2 separate regions of the Homo sapiens genome follow, and region 1 is linked to region 2. Evidence: fine-mapped expression QTL. Tissue or cell type: whole blood. Region 2 holds a variant in brackets; the other region holds the start of a gene. All regions are shown on one strand. Distances are from middle to middle.

Region 1 (2,681 bases), 35 kb after region 2:
GGAGGTAGGGCTTTGGTTCAAGAAGTTAAACAATGAGAACAGAAATTAATGCAGAAAAAGAGTTCATTTGAATTCATTCTATAATCAATAAATATCTGTCAATCCCATTGATTGTGCCAGACATGAGCTCAGTGCTGGGGATAGAGCCCTTTCCCCTTTGGGGAAGCTCACAGATTCACTGGGGCAAGACATACCTAGGAAAAGCTCATTAAGCAGCCAGGAATTAAGTGACCATAAAGAGAAACATCCAAGGTTGTCAAGAGTCCCGGAGTGCACAGGGGAATATCTGTGCCATCAGCCCCTGGTCCCCATCGGCTGACTCCGCTATCACTCCTTCTACTGCCAGGGGTTCCCACCCCCAGGTATCCATTTCTTACCTGGATGGCAGCATCCCACCCCACCACGCACTGGTCTTCCTGCCTCCAGCCTGGTTCACCTTCCATTCACCTCATGAACACTGCAAGCAGGTTTTCTGAATCTCACACCTGACCTCCTGATAGAGTCCCAGATCCTGCACCTCTCCAGCCTCAACTCTGCCCCCTTCTCAGCGGCTCTGGAGGTCCTGGCCACACCAGATTCCTTAGAGACCCTAGTCCAGTGCCTGGGTCCTCCTCCTCCCCTTAGGAACTCCTTCCTGCCCTTTGCAAACATAGCCCAAAAGTCTTTCCACGGAGAGGGCTTCTCAGGACCTAACCCCTACCTGCAGCCACCTAGGGCCACTGCCCTTCCCTAGTCCTTTCCGGGTGCCTCAGACATCAAGCGAGGCTACTACTGGCAACAAAATCCCCCACTTCCAAAATCCCTTTTTCTGGGAAAGGCAGAATCCGCCTGCAGCAGCCAATTGGGCAGGCGCCAAGAAAGTAGTGAAGGGTCAGAGGGGACAGGAGGCCACCCGCAGCGCCCACCCTGGATAGGGATAGGTTCGAGAGGTTGCTACTGAGCTGCAAAATAACCCCGTCTTTCCTTCCCGCATATGGTCTTGTATCTGACAGTCCCTGTGTCTCACAGCGGTAATCGTGTGTTGCATCGATGCGTTTGTGGTCACCACGAAGATGAGGACCAACTTGAAAAGATTCCTGGGAGTCGAAGTTGAAAGGAAGCTTTCCCCCGCCAAGGACGCCTACCCCGAAACCGGCCCCGACGCCCCGCAGAGGCCCGCCTGAAGCCAGCCCGGCGCCCTAGCAGATGCACGTGTCTGTCGAATCGCTGCCTCCGAGCCCACCCCCGAGCTCGCATGCTGTCACCCATTCCAGCCTAAATGTGACCATAAAATTAGGGCTGCTGCTTTTATCGAGAACACCTGCTTCCTCTCGTTGCCTTGTGTGAAAGTCGCGTTGTATTTTCCTGCGCTTGGCGCTGCGCCCGCGGAGCTCAGGGCCGTGACCCGGTGCTCGCAGCCCCCCGACCCCGCAGCGGAGCGGCGGCTTACAGACCTGGGGCCACCTGGAGACGCCGGGATGGGACCGCGAGGGCAGCTCCGCGCGGAGGTGGGACCGGCGGGTTGGGAACGGAGTTGGGGCCCGTCGGGGGCCGGCGCGTGGAGGGTGGGAGGATCCGGCCGCTGCCGGGCGGATGGGAGCTGCGCGAGGAGACGGGCGCGCGTGGAGAGGGCGCGGGAGTTGGCATTCGGTGGTCCTGGCAGTTAGCTGAGCACGCCCTCTGAGCCGCTCGGTGGACACCAGGCACTCTAGTAGGCCTGGCCTACCCAGAAACAGCAGGAGAGAGAAGAAACAGGCCAGCTGTGAGAAGCCAAGGACACCGAGTCAGTCATGGCACCTAAGGCGGCAAAGGGGGCCAAGCCAGAGCCAGCACCAGCTCCACCTCCACCCGGGGCCAAACCCGAGGAAGACAAGAAGGACGGTAAGGAGCCATCGGACAAACCTCAAAAGGCGGTGCAGGACCATAAGGAGCCATCGGACAAACCTCAAAAGGCGGTGCAGCCCAAGCACGAAGTGGGCACGAGGAGGGGGTGTCGCCGCTACCGGTGGGAATTAAAAGACAGCAATAAAGAGTTCTGGCTCTTGGGGCACGCTGAGATCAAGATTCGGAGTTTGGTGAGCTAAACTGGTATCCCTGGGTGGGGGGCCTTGGCCGAGGGTGGGGGGAAGGAGGAGTAGGCTCCAGGGGTCCTCAGAGAGATGGTGAAAGGCCCTTGCTGCTGGCTCAGGTGTCTATGTCTCACTGCAGGGCTGCCTAATAGCTGCAATGATACTGTTGTCCTCACTCACCGTGCACCCCATCTTGAGGCTTATCATCACCATGGAGATATCCTTCTTCAGCTTCTTCATCTTACTGTACAGCTTTGCCATTCATAGATACATACCCTTCATCCTGTGGCCCATTTCTGTAAGTAAGGGGTGATGGGGAGTGCCTGCATCCAGAATGCTGATCAGGTGTGTCTTGGCACCTGGAAAGTCACCAAACAGAGAGACACACCTCACCTCCCATATCTGTGCCTGGGTCAGGGACTCAGAACATCAGTGGGGCCCAGGCAGAGGCAGCTGGGTGCAAGAGGGGTAGCTAGGCAGAAAATGCTCCAAAAAGCCTATCTGTGTGTTGGAGTGAGAGTGGGGAACTCTTACTTACCTGGTGGTCAAAGAGGGCCTGAGCCTTTGTTCTCTTTAGGGGAAGGGGAGGTGTAGCAACCAGCTGTTCCTCCGAACTCCTGTGCCAGCTCACAC
Region 2 (2,681 bases):
AGCGGTTCTCAGCTCTGGCTATACGCTAGGACCACCTGGGACCTTTTAAAAATCTCTACAGGGATGCCACAGCCCAGACCAATTACACCACAATCTCTGGGAGTGAGACTCAAGACTCAGTAACTTTTTTTTTCTTTGAGACAGAGTTTCACTCTTGTTGCCCAGGCTGGAGCACAGTGGCGTGATCTCAGCTCACTGCAACCTCCACCTCCTGGGTTCAAGCCATTCTCCTGCCTCAGCCTCCCGAGTAGCTGGGATTACAGGTGCCCACCACCACACCCGGCTAATTTTTTGTATTTTTAGTAGAGACATGGTTTCACCATGTAGGCCAGGCTGGTCTCAAACTCCCGACCTCAGGTGATCCACCCGCCTCAGCCTCCCAAAGTGCTGGGATTACAGGCGTGAGCCACTGCACCCGGCCAAGCCTCAGTAACTTTTAAAGCTCTCCAGGCGATTTCAATGTGCAGGCAAGGATGGGAACCACGAGGCTGGAGCAGAGCTTCTCCCTGTCTAGTCCACAGATGCCTGCTTCAGATGCACCAGAGGAGCTGGTTAAACATGAGGTGGCACCAGGTAGCATCCAGACCCTAAATCAGACTCTAGGCTGGAGCCCTTGAACCTGTAGCCCAGTGATTCTGACCAAGCTCTGCTCAGCCAGGCACTGCTGATGACATAGGCCCAGTGGCTCTGGCTCCAGCAGATGGCCACAGGGAACGGGCAGCTCCAATACATAAGACAAACTGTCCCCTGAGAACACATTAGACATCCTCCAGGGGCACACACAGAGAGGGGCCCGACCTGCTGCACAGAGGCCTGTTCCTTTGCACTCAGGCTGGAAGCACCCAGAGAAACCTGGGCAACACAGGTAACTTACCCAAGTGCCAGACTTGGCTAGGGAAGAATCAGAATTAGAATTCACATCCAGGCCCCTTCTCACGACTCCTGATGGAGCCTCAGTCACACCTCACATAAACACCAGGTCACAGTGGGCCGTCTCACCCGACCCCACTAAAGTCTCCCCAGCAACTAGAACTCTGTCAGCTGGCGGAGAAGGTTCCTCCTGCCTTGATCCTAACGGGTATCCAGGAGACACAAGGCCACTCTCCCATCCTGGGTCCCTCCCAGCCCACTCCTTTAGAGCCCCAAACTACAAAATGAACCCAAGGGAATGAACAAAAGGGCATGAAAAGACCCCATTAGGGCACTAATGGATTTAATTTTTTTATTGCTCTTTAAAGAAAACTTTTCCTCTTCCTAGATATATAAAAAGAGCTCAACCTAGACATCACTCTACAGTCTTTTTTCTTTCCTGTTCATTGAAGCATTTTAACAGGTTGTTCAGATAAGCCCTTCTCCCAGAAACTTGTTCCTATCCCCAGCATGAAATCCTGAAGAGCTGGTGAATGTCAGGCCCTGAATGAGCTCAGCCAATCTGCCCTCCGGTTTACAGCAGGCAACGCAGGAAGAATCTCA[C/T]AAAGTTCCCCTGAAATGGAAGGGGGAACAGGAAGCAAGCAAAGGGAGTCTTTACATTTCTTTTTAAAGTGATGTCTAAAAATATTATAAGAGAAGTGCATGCCCATTGAAGAAAATACAGAAAATCAAAAAGGAGAAACTATCACCCATAATCCCAATACTAAGAGATAAACCCCATGACATATGAGCATATTTCATGCCAAATATTATTTTCTATACAGTCCTCATCTTTGAGCACGTTTCAACTGTTTATTGAAGGCCTATGCTGTGCCAGGCACTGTGTACTCAGGGCCTCGTTGCAACGGCCAAAGAGCTCATGAGTGTGTGGAGGAAAGCAACAGGAAACTGTGAAAAGGAGATGGTCCCCATGCTGTGGGAGCACATGGCCGGCCTGGCCCAACACTCTGTGATTACGCTACAATTTATCTCCATTTTCCTCTGCTATGAGCCCTTGAGTCCAATTTTCCATGATTATAACTGAAACTGTGATGAGCCATCTATCCCTATTATAAGTAACAATATTTAATCTTTCCTAAAAATGGAAATTAAGCATTCTTGTGCTAAGAAATACATTCTCAGTGGCCAGGCGCAGTGGCTCACGCCTGTAATCCCAGCATTTTGGGAGGCCGAGGCAGGGGATCATTTGAGGTCAGGAGATCAAGACCAGCCTGGCCAACATGGTGAAACCCCGTCTCTACTAAAAATACAAAAATTAGCCAGGCGTGGTGGCGGATGCCTGTAATCCCAGCTACTGGGGAGGCTGATGCAAGAGAATCGCTTGAGCTTGGGAGCTGAGAGGTGGAGGTTGTGGTGAGCCGAGATCACACCACTGCACTCCAGTCTGGGTGACAGAGTGAGACCCTGTCTTCAAAAAAAAAAAAAAAAAGAAATACATTCTCACACACAAGAATGTATGTATGCATGAATATATGTATATGTTTATGAATATGCATATATGTATTTATCAGTTGGATTTCTCTGATCAAACCTTATTACACAATCCCTAAAAGAAGAAAATAAAAATCACTCGTAAATCTCAGCAATCATTGTCATTTGGATGTTTAATTAGAACCCAGGGTTCCAGAGGCAAACTGGCTTGGGTGCCAAAGCCTCCACAGGGAGAATCCAAATATCCTGTCTTATCAAAGACCCTGAGAAATCTGCAGTCAAAAGAAACTTGCCCAAACGTCTAACAACTGGCAAGTGGA

Evidence for each region. PIP is the estimated chance that this variant, and not a neighbour inherited with it, causes the effect.
Region 1: CMTM2 starts here. The variant in region 2 is fine-mapped to the expression of CMTM2 in whole blood (INTERVAL, PIP 0.91).

What each region holds. Positions count from the first base shown.
Region 1 is chr16:66,577,839-66,580,519 of GRCh38, forward strand. CMTM2 (CKLF like MARVEL transmembrane domain containing 2) reads left to right here and starts at 1,625. Exons shown (of 4, transcript NM_144673.3): 1 at 1,625-2,054; 2 at 2,188-2,346. The coding sequence starts at 1,770. CKLF-CMTM1 (CKLF-CMTM1 readthrough) reads left to right here. Exons shown (of 4, transcript NM_001204099.2): 4 at 993-1,297. The coding sequence ends at 1,163. It overlaps CMTM1 (CKLF like MARVEL transmembrane domain containing 1), which reads left to right. Exons shown (of 4, transcript NM_052999.4): 4 at 993-1,297. The coding sequence ends at 1,163.
Region 2 is chr16:66,542,753-66,545,433 of GRCh38, forward strand. All of the region lies in intron 2 of TK2 (thymidine kinase 2), which reads right to left. Among named protein-coding and RNA genes, the nearest start is that of TK2, 6.0 kb to the right of the region's middle. The variant C/T (reference allele first, on the strand shown) is at 1,474.